Homo sapiens: one gene and its partner. The protein of the gene in region 2 interacts with the protein of the main gene of each other region in a biochemical or structural test. Each region holds a gene or a part of one and is shown on either strand. Other genes may lie near its edges.

Region 1 (5,265 bases), on a different chromosome or scaffold from region 2:
AAAAGAGCCAGGAGTTCAAATTCCATCCTAACTAAAGTTAAAGAGATGGAATCTTTAAAAAAAAAAAAAAAAAATGACTTAGAAAAGCACAAAGACCTTTTTGCTCTTGAAAATTCTGTTCACGTGGCATTCTACTAGTAAAACCACAAAAGGCAAAGATAAGCATTACTGTGGATATGTAATACAACAAACACAAAATAATCTCCTCCCAACCTCTCTCCAGCCAAATGCTCAACTGCTTAATTCACAGGAATTTATACATGTAAAGTAGCACAGTCTTCTATCAGATGAGGGAAGGGGCTAAAATTAAACAACTGGCCTTAGGAATAAAATCTGTCACTTGGCATAGACAGGACTTAGCACTCTCTGTTGGTGTGGAGTAGAGAACTCTCCTGTTGGAAGATTGGGGATTCACGGTTTTGATTATCCCCTATCTCATGTGCCTTGGTGAATTTTCAGCTGCTGCAAATTGAGCAGCCAGGTGGCACGCTATTGATTTAAAAGGATTTCCCAGGTGCTACAAAGAAGAGTTAATGATCTTTTAACCTCTATAGAAGCTTTTAACCTGTATAGTCAGAAAAAAAAATGGAAATAACATTGGAAAAAAATGGAAATAACATTGGAATAACATTCTCTGCAGACAGAAATGCACAATGTTGGTAGCATTTTATATCAGGAGCAAAAGCCAACTGTCCCCATGTCTGCAGAAGGGGTATTTTCTTTATAGGTAATCGTTTCAGTATTTAATCACTCAAGAGGACAGCAGCATGGTGAGATGGAGAGGGTCTGGGAAAAGACATCAGGAAACCTGTGCCCTATATCAACTCAGATACTCAGAAGTAAGGACTCAGAGTGTTGTACTAAATAATATTTGAAATCCCTTCCAGATCTATAATCATATCACCATTTGAGAGTCTGTCAATTACGTATGCATTTTGTGAAGACAACAGGATATGGCAGGAGGTGGGGGAGAGATTAATTTAATATAAAGTTGCTCATTTATTTCATGTTGATGTGTTGCATTAAATCCCAAAGATAAAAAGACAATGGCAACAAAGGTACAGTCAACAGAAAAGCCCATCTCTGGTGTACAGCAGAGGGGAGCCTGTGTCTAAATAGTACGTGTTTACATACCAGAGTTGCCCACGGTAACAACCTCTTCCCGAACCTTATGCCTCTGCTGGTCTTTCAGTGCCTCCACTATGACGTTGTAGGTGGCACCTCTGGTGAGGCCTGTCAGAGTGGCACTGGTAGAAGTTCCAGGAACCCTGAACTGCAATTATCGGTACATCCAAAGCAGAGAGAAAGCATTATAGTGAGGAATGACACGGGCTCTCCTCTTACCAATAACCCTCACTGTTTAAACAAAGCAAAGGAAGACAAAAAACAAAAAACAAAAAAAAAAAAAAGAGGGAGGGTATAGTGGTCCTAACCAGCTGAGGAGAGAAATGGAACAAGGATAGGGGCCATCGTTCCTGCCAGATTTTCCTGCCAACAATCTACCTACGTGCTCCGTAGTTAACAGGAGCCCTCGACAATACTAGAGACGGCCTGCCATTGATCTTGCTTCAGTCGCAGGTCTGCATAAGCCCTCTGGAAGCCCTGGCCATGTTTGCTTCACATAAAACCTGGACACTGCGCTATATGGGAGACACGGTCATGCTCCTCCAGGTGACATCTGACCCCAGTGTGGAGTCCTTAAAACAGTTGGGCAAATCCTCAAACTCATGTTTCTAAGCTCATAAATTTCCTACAGTGTTGTCAGTTTTTAAATTCTGCCACTTTCTAAAAGTAACAACACAATAAAAATTGATACTGTCAGTGGGCCGGGTGTAGTGGGTGGCTCATGCTTGTAGTCCCAGCACTTTGGGAGGCCAAGGCGGGCGGATCACGAGGTCAGGAGATCGAGACCATCCTGGCCAACATCGTGAAACCCCGTCTCTACTAAAAATACAAAAATTAGCTGGGTGCGGTGGCACATGCCTGTAATCCCAGCTATTTGGGAGGCTGAGGCAGGAGAATTGCTTGAACCTGGGAGGCAGAGGTTGCAGTGAGCCGAGATCACGCCACTGCACTCCAGCCAGGGCCATAGAGCAAGACTCCATCTCGGGGAAAAAAAAAAATGGATACTGTCAACACAAATTAAATAATATACGTTTTAGAGAATCAATCACTTATCAGCTGCTATGCACAGCTTCGCCTGTTTTTTTTTTTCTTTAGATATGTTGTAGATAGTGGGGTTCTTCAAGGACAAATCGTAAAGGTAGTGTTTTAGACTTCTGCACACAAATGGAAATTCAGGTAGAATATCTTTCTTTTCTAGAATCATCTATCTTACTCAAAAAGGAACCTCAAATGTGTGAGAATAAGAGAAATAGTTTCATTTTCTCTATGAAATAAAAGCTAGTGACTCTCTGGTATGTCCTCCAAAGTAGAGCCATATTGGGATTTAAAAAAAAAAAAAAGCAGGGCTTAAATGTGCCATCTTCTAAGAGGTTCTAAAAGTGGAGCCACTTTTTTTTTTTTTTTTTTTTCAAGAGACGAGGTTTCACCATGTTGGCCAGGCTGGTCTTGAACTCCTAACCTCAAATGATCCACCTGCCTCGGCCTCCCAAAGTGCTGGGATTACAGGCGTGAGCCATCACACCCGGCCATGAAGCCACTTTTTATTCGAGGGCTGGTCACTTCAGTTACCTAACTTATTCCTTTCTGTGCTGCCCCATGAGAAGTGAAGAGAACAATTAATTACCTGTAAGGGTTCTTCATCAGTGCCAACAGGATGACATGAAATGATGTACTCAGAAGTGTCCTGGAATGGGGCCCATGAGATGGTTGTCTGAGAGAGAGCTTCTTGTCCTGTAGAGGCATTTGGATTGAGTCCCGGACCGTGTGGGTACAGGTGATAGTCTACATCTTCCCTGGGGATGTGACCAATTTGGATTTCCTCACCTACATTCGGCGGGTATGGTCTTGGCCTATGCCTTATGGGGGTGGCCGTTGTGGGCGGTGTGGTCCGCCTAAAACCATGTTCCTCAAAGATCATTTGTTGCCCAACACTGGGTTGCTGACCAGAAGTGCCAGGAAGCTGAATACCATTTCCAGTGTCATACCCAGGGTGGGTGACGAAAGGGGTCTTTTGAACTGTGGAAGGAACATCCAAGATCTCTGGTCCATGAAGATTGGGGTGTGGAAGGGTTACCAGTTGGGGAAGCTCGTCTAGCCGAGAGAGGTTAGAGCCAAAAAAGCAAAGCGCATTAAGCTCCAGGAAGTAGCAGCAATGATAATAATCGATTCAGGCAACAATGACTGTTCATCAATTTGATAAAAGCCACCAGAAAATGAGCAGTTCTGAGATCACAAAACACTTTTTCCAGAAAGAAATCTTTAGGATTTTTCTCAAAGGTTTCTTTATAGTTTAGAAAGAAAAAAGTGTTAGTATGAATTTATCATACACACAGCTTTAAACCGCTGAGCCCCGTAGAAGCTGCCTCTGCTCAAATTAGACCTAATGGAACTGAAATGTGCAGTCTTTCTCTTTCTCTCTTTCTTTTTTAAATTTGAGAAGCAAGTTGTAGGAAGTAGAATCCAGACTAATCATATCAGTGTCATAAGTATGAGAATTACAGAGGTTTGGCTCAACAGTTTTTCATGGTTTGAAATGGTAAAAATAGATAAAACACACATGTTCATTTTTGAAATTTTCCTATATCAGGAATACACATTTTCTTGAAATTAACTGAAACTGGATGCAAAAGTAAGACATTATTTAGCTCTAAGTTGTAGAAACCAAATAAAGATAAATGTGAGAGGTTTCTCTCCCTCCTTTAAAAAAGGAAACATTTTAAAATTCAACAGAAGGTATAAAAGAAGAGCAATGATAGCTCTTCTTTTACATTTTAACATCTTGTTTGAATTTTTAAAAGGTGAATAACAAGGCTTTATATTGAGTGGCTGTAGTAAAGAAAAAAAATAAAACCAAACTCTGCAGTGCATGTTAAATTATTTCTCCTATTAAAGAATACAATATATACACTATGCTGTTAGATAAAAAAAATCACAAGAAATGCATCAAAACATGGAGAACCTTTTCATATTGCAAGATTGCTCATTTGTTATTAGTTTTGTCCTATCTTTCTCCTTGTTACCTGCAAGATACTCTTACCTGTCTTTTTCCTTCCAATCAGGGGCTCGCTCTTCTGATTATTCTTCAGGGCAATGACATAAATTGTATATTCGGTTCCCGGTTCCAGGCCTGAAGGGAGAATAGAACCATCACATTATGTCAATGGGCTCAGCTAGTCAAGTGGAAGTCGGTCTCACCAGCAGACGCTACTGGGAGCAGGCACTTCCTCTCCAGCTGGCTGTTGGCCTCTTGAAGGTAAAATCGACTTCACTTTTCCTCCATAAACACCCAAATATCCTGCATATAAAGTCCGCATCGCAAACTAATTATCTTACTATCATATCTGACGCCTGAATAGACATTTTTTGGCTAACTTTTCCAGGGTATTCTTTTTTTTTTTTTTTTTTTTTTTTTTGAGATGGAGTCTGGCTCTGTCACCCAGGCTGGAGTGCAGTGGTGCTATCTCGGCTCACTGCAAGCTCCGCTTCCCAGGTTCAGCCATTCTCCTGCCTCAGCCACCCGAGTAGCTGGGACTACAGGCACCCATCACCACGCCTGGCTAATTTTGTTTTTGTATTTTTAGTAGAGATGGGGTTTCACCGTGTTAGCCAGGATGGTCTCGATCTCCTGACCTTGTGATCTGCCTGCCTCGGCCTCCCAAAGTGCTGGGATTACAGGCGTGAGCCACCGCGCCTGGCCTTTCCAGGGTATTCTTTTAACGTGGTCTTATTTGCCTTTTTGAATTTAAGAAAATCTATCAGCATCATATACCACCACTGGAATATAAATTTGAAAGAGAGTCCTGCAGATTATATACATGAATCTACTTAGGCCTAATAACCAAGCAGTCCTCAGTGGCAGATCAATGAAAAGTGAAACTAAAGGCAAGTGAAGGGTAGGAGAGATTGGCCAGTGTTTGTGCAGCCTCTGTGGGAAGTGTCTAGTTCAATTCCTCTCATGTCTGCTTCTATTTTCCTGTTCCCCCCAATTCTAAAAAGCCAGTGTCTCCTTCTAATGTCTGTATGTTCTGTGGGAATTTTAAAGTCCAGGTGATACTCTATACAGACTGATATGGTTTGGCTCTGTGTCTGCATCCAAATCTCATCTGGAATTGTAATCCCCATGTATTGAGGAGAGGAGGT
Region 2 (5,707 bases):
CAGGACCAGCTCCCTCAAATCCCGCCCCAGATCTATTTAACCCACGCACCAGACCCTCAGGCTCCACCTAAATCGATTAAGCTCAGCCTCAGACCCACTAAACCCCTCCCAGCATCCACTTAGGTCCTGCCTCCATCACACCAGACCCCGCCCCCTGATCTACAAAGCCCCGCCCATTCCCACAGGCCGCATCCTCCCTGGGCCCAGACCCAGGACCCCAGCTTCGTCCACCACCCTCACCGTAGGTCTCAGCCATGACTCGGTCGCGGCCGCTGAGGGCCGCAATATGGCGCCGCGGCCGCGCCTGCTCCTCGGCTGGCAGCCGCTCCACTCCGGCTACAGCCCCGGCTCCTTCCTACTCCCCGGGCCCGGCACCGCCACTTCCGCCTCCGCCCCCCTCCGGCGCGACCCGCTCCGGCAGCTGGATACCAGGCGACGCTTTCCGAAGGGCGGGATTGGCGGACTCGCGGGCAGGGGGCGGGACAAGAGGCGCGGATTGGTGGCGTGAGAAGGACCAAGCCCAAAGGGGCGGGGCCGAGCCCAGCGATTGGCTGAGCAAGTGGGAAGGGACGTGCAGAGCTGCTTAGCTGAGCCGAGGAACGGATTTAGTCTGGAGTACGGGGGGCAGAGTCGAGTCTCCGGATTGGATCGGAGCGGACTTGGGGGAGGGGATACAAATGCAAAGAAGGGGGCACGGGCAGGATTGACAGAAAGAGGCTGGAAGAGGAGCTGATCTTGAGCTGGCGGGAGCGATTACTGTTCTCAAAGGCGAAAAGGAGGAAAACTGGGCAGATAGGCGCAGGTTACTTCCCACCTCCCTTTCCAGATAATCTTCCAAGAAAACCTTTACTGTGCGATTTATATCCTCCGCGTAGTCCGATTGGCTCCCTCCCACTGGTCTAGAGAGGACACTACAATCCCCTAGTTGGGCTGCTTAGGTTTTCCTTTGCTTGTGTCCGAAACCTAAGCTTAGGAGCGCTCCTACTGCACAGGGCTTTCATCAGTGAAACTCTGCCTAGCAACCACTGACGTTACCACAGGCAGCGGGTTAATTGGTTAGATTCAGCAACCTAGAGAAACATTTCATTTGTACAGTCCCCACCCTACCCTACCCCACCCCAAAGACCACGGAGACGAGCCGTTTGCACTGGGCTGATTGTATTTGCATAAAGCCAAGGAGGGGAAACGGCAGGGCCAGCGGTAGGCTGAGCTCACTGGCAGTAGAAATCCCATTTCTGAAAAAGAGAAAGGGGAAACAGTGGAAAGAAAACCAGCGGTCACACCACAAAGGATCTAGTGGTTTTAGCAAAGGCTGCAGCTGCAGGGCCCAGGTCTGGCCACACAAGTGCTATGCAAATTAGCCTAGAGCCCTCTAATCTTTGCACCTCCCAACTGGACCCATTTTACTGGTGAGAAAATTGAGGCAGGGAAAGAATTTCTCCCAGCGCACATACCTAGGCTGCCAGGGAGCCAAGTGTGGGAGCATTTTTGCCCATCCCCACAACCTAAGGGTCCTCCCCCCACATTTCTTGCCAGCCCCCATGACACTCACGTCTGTCTTCACATCGACTTTGCCAGGTTTCAGGGTCTGGTCCTCTCGGACAATGCTACTGGGGAAATAGCCCAGGCGAGCAGCCAGATCTCCATAGTAATCTCCCTGAACCTGGGGAAGAGGAGTTAAAAGCTAGGGTCTGGGAAGATGGCAAGCTTGTGCCTGCTGAAGGCCTTTGCATTCTCCCTTCTCCCTGATCTCCACATAACTGCTCCATCCTTGTCATATGAATCTCAGCTTAAATGCCACCTGTTCAGAGGCCCTTTCTGAACACCCAAGTAAGTCTCTGTTAATTCTCACAGCAGCGCATATTTGCTTTTATTATTATTATTATTTTGGAAACAGGGTCTCATTGTGTCGCCCAGGTTGAGGTGCAGTAGCATGATCACGGCTCACTGCAGCCTCAACTTCTGGGATCAAGCAATCCTCCCACCTCAGCCTCCCGAGTAGCCGGGACCACAGACACATGCCATGAAGCCCAGTTAATTTTAAATTTTTTTTTATAGAGATGGGGGTCTTGCTATGTTGCCCAGGCTGGTCTCGAACTCCTGGGCTCAAGCTATCCTCCCAACTTGGCCTTACTTGGGATTACAGGTGTGAGCTACTGTGCCCGGCTGCTGCTATTTTTTATGCCTTGCTTTTTGTTCATTTCCCTCCATTAGAATAAAAAGGATCATTTGTTGTTGTATCTTGGTGTCTAGAACAGAACGTGGGACCATATCAGGTCCTAAAATTGGTAAATAAAGTGAAAATAGGCTGGGGGGCAGTGGCTCACACCTGTAATCCCAGCACTCCGGGAGGCCAAGGCGGGCAGATCATGAGGTCAGGAGTTCAAGACCAGCCTGGCCAATATGGTAAAACCCTGTCTCTACTAAAAATACAAAAATTAGCCAGGTGTGGTGGTGCATGCCTGTAATCCCAGGTACTTGGGAGGCTGAGGCAGGAGAATCGCTTAAACCCAAGAGGTGGAGGTTACAGTGAGCCGAGATCGTGCCATTGCACTCCAGCCTGGGTGACAGAGCAAGACTCTGTCTCGGAAAAAATTAAAAAATAATAAGCAAATAAAATAAAGTAAGTAACAATATCCCCCCACAATGTCTATTTCAGTTCACCCCCCTCAAATCTTCCCTTCATGGGGATAATGAGTCTACCCCAGCTCTGTACCCTTCCCTCTTTCACTCTCCCAAGACTCACGCTGCCTCCCCAGAAGAGCCGCCCACGGCCCTTCAGCTTGGAGAAGACATACACCACTTGGCCCCGGTGAATGGTCAGGAATCGGCAGTCGGGGGCCATGTAGTCCTGAAGGGCCACAGCCATGGAGATAGGGTCTAGGGAAGGAATAGAAGGGAATGCAGCACCCTCCACACAGGCTAACGCCCAAGCCCCCAATTCTCCCCTCCCCATTCTTACGGCTGCACTCCTGGTCCGCACACAGCTTCCGGTCAGCCAGCTTGGGCATAGGACCACCCCTGACACCAGGTCCGGAGAAGGCAGACAGCAAGATGATGACACCAAGGCACACCAGGGACCGGGCCATCGTGGACTGTGAGCAAGAGAGTGAGCAAGGGGGTGCTGGGGTCTCCAATTTCCTCCCCTCCCTCTCTCCCGTAGTACAAGGAAACTTGTGTTCTTGGTCTTGTCCCCGCCCTAAACCAGTCCCAAACTTCGCCCACACCACCTAGAAGTTGCTATGAAACCAGAACCATTTCAAGGATAGGGTAAAGGCTGTAAGCCCAAGGAAATTCCCAGATAAGGTCCAAAGCAGCTCACAACTTTCCCAGTGACAGCCCCCTCCTCAACAATCACAGAGGCCTAGATAAGGTGGTTGAAATATTCAATTCCATCTTCTCTTGAGTTGGCTTAGGTACCTGGGCTCCTCCGCTGTCCCCTCTGGCCACAGAAGCGGAGGAGCCTGTAAAGAAAACCACCTTGGAATTTCCTGTGCTGTGGGGCAGGAGAACAAGGCAGCCCTTTGATTACCAGAAACAGCCCAGCCCTTGAGTACTGACTGAATATTGTATGCTGAACCTTAGGCTAGGCAAAGTCCCACCATGATCACTATTCCTCTGCACCAGACGCTTCCCACTGGATGACCTGGGCTAAGCTATTTCTCCTCACAAAGCCTCAGCTTCCTTATATGTAAAATGGGAACAATAAAAAAGCCAATAGTTACAGAGCATTCACCAAGTACATATTTATGTTATGAACTCAAATGGATACTCTGTATCATGTCAGGAGGAGTGATTATAACCCCTCCCTTTTTTTTCTTTTTTGAGACAGGGTCTCACCCTGTTGCCCAGGTGGAGTGCAATGGTGCCATCCCGGCTCACTGCAGCCTCAACCTCCTAGACTCAGGCAATCCTCCCACCTCAGCCTCCTGAGTAACTGGGACTACAGGCACAAGCCACCTATGCCCAATTAATCCATTTTTTTAAATAATTATTTTGAGGTAGAGTCTTGCTCTGTTGCCCAGGTTGGAGTGCACTGGCATGATCCTGGTTCACTGTAGCCCCTATTTCCTGGGCTCAAGCATTCCTCCCACCTCAGCCTACCGAGTAGCTGGGACCACAGACATGTACCATTATGCCCAGTTAATTTTTTGTATTTTTTGGTAGAGCCGGGGTTTCGTCATGTTGCCCAGCCTCGTCTCAAACTCCTGGGCTCAAGCAATCTGCCCACCATGGCCTTCCAAAGTGCTGGGATTACAGGCATGAGCCACCAAGCCCAGCCTAATTTAATTTTTTGAGACAGGATCTTGCTGTTGCTCAGGCTGAAGTACAGTGATGTGATCATAGCTCACTGCATCCTCAAACTCCTGGGCTCAAGAAATCCTCCCCTCTCAGCCTCTCGAGTAGAATAGTAGGCAAGTCACCATTCTTGGATGATTTCTTTTATTTTTATTTTTCTAGAGCCAATGTCTTACTGTGCTGCCTGGGCTGGTCTTGAACTCTTGTCCCCAAGTATCCTCCCGCCTTGGCCTCCCAAAGCACTGGGATTACAGGCATGAGCCACCAATGCCTGGCCTATAACCCCTTGTTACATGGAAATGGAAGTGTGGAGTTAAGGAACTTGTCTAAGGCTTACAGAGCCAGGAAGTGGAGAAGTGGAGAGGCTAAGACTTGTATCCAGGCCCACAGCCATTGCTATGCTATCTTTTTTTTTTTTTCTTTTTTTTCTTTGAGATGGAGTCTCATATTGCAGTGGTACAATCTCAGCTCACTGCAACCTCCACCTCCCGAGTTCAAGCAATTCTCCTGCCTCAGCCTCCCGAGTAGCTGGGATTACAGGCATGTGCCACCATGCCCGGCTATTTTTGTATTTTTAGTAGAGACAGGGTTTGTCCATGTTGGCCAGGCTGGTCTCGAACTCCCCACCTCAGGTGATCCACCCGCCTCGGCGTTCCAAAGTGCTGGGATTATAGGAGTGAGTCACCGCGTCTGGCCTGAAAGATTTTTTTTTTTTTACAGGCAGGGTCTCACTCTGTCACCCAGACTAGAGTGCAGTGCCACAATCACAGCTCACTCAGCCTTGAACAACTGGGCTCAAGCTATTCTCCCACCGCAGCCTCCTAAGTAGCTGTGACTATAAGTGTGAGCCACTGCACCTGGCTTTGAAATGCAATTTCTTTTTTTTTTTTTTTTTTTTTGAGACATTGTTTCGCTCTTGTCACCCAAGCTGGAGTGCAATGGCACGATCTTAGCTCACTGTGACCTCCCCCTCCCGGGTTCAAGTGATTCTCCTGCCTCAGCCTCCCAAGTAGCGGGGATTACAGGCATCTGCCACCATGCCCAGCTAATTTTGTATTTTTAGTAGAGATGGGGTTTCACCATGTTGGTCAGGCTGGTGTCAAACTCCTGACCTCAAGTGACCCACCCACCTTGGCCTCCAAAAGTGTGGGGATTACAGGTGTGAGCCACCGCACCCGGCCCCACTTTAAAACACTCTTTAAAAAATTATTTCTTCATTCAGGCCAGACATGGTGGCTCACTCTTGTAATCCCAGCACTTTGGGAGGCTGAGGCAGGCGGATCACTTGAGGTCAGGAGTTTTGAGACCAGCCTGGCCAACGTGGTGAAAATACAAAAATTAGACAGGCATGGTGGCACACACCTGTAGTCCCAGCTACTTGGGAGGCCGAACCAGAATCACTTGAAAC

Evidence for each region. Proteins that work in one complex are often made in the same cells at the same time.
Region 1: the proteins of MIA (region 2) and FN1 form a complex in vitro, tested with the Homo sapiens proteins (one study listed by BioGRID).

Annotation. Positions count from the first base shown.
Region 1 is NC_000002.12:215,369,160-215,374,424, forward strand, and holds part of FN1 (fibronectin isoform 1 precursor), read right to left. Parts: intron 4,253-5,265; coding exon 4,163-4,252; intron 3,217-4,162; coding exon 2,750-3,216; intron 1,274-2,749; coding exon 1,135-1,273; intron 1-1,134. UniProt on the Homo sapiens protein: Fibronectins bind cell surfaces and various compounds including collagen, fibrin, heparin, DNA, and actin. Fibronectins are involved in cell adhesion, cell motility, opsonization, wound healing, and maintenance of cell shape.
Region 2 is NC_000019.10:40,772,925-40,778,631, reverse strand, and holds MIA (melanoma-derived growth regulatory protein precursor), read right to left. Parts: upstream 3,112-5,707; 5' UTR 3,090-3,111; coding exon 2,963-3,089; intron 2,881-2,962; coding exon 2,747-2,880; intron 1,664-2,746; coding exon 1,553-1,663; intron 1,236-1,552; coding exon 1,212-1,235; 3' UTR 1,142-1,211; downstream 1-1,141. Other genes in the region: RAB4B (ras-related protein Rab-4B), read right to left, coding at 241-256. UniProt on the Homo sapiens protein: Elicits growth inhibition on melanoma cells in vitro as well as some other neuroectodermal tumors, including gliomas.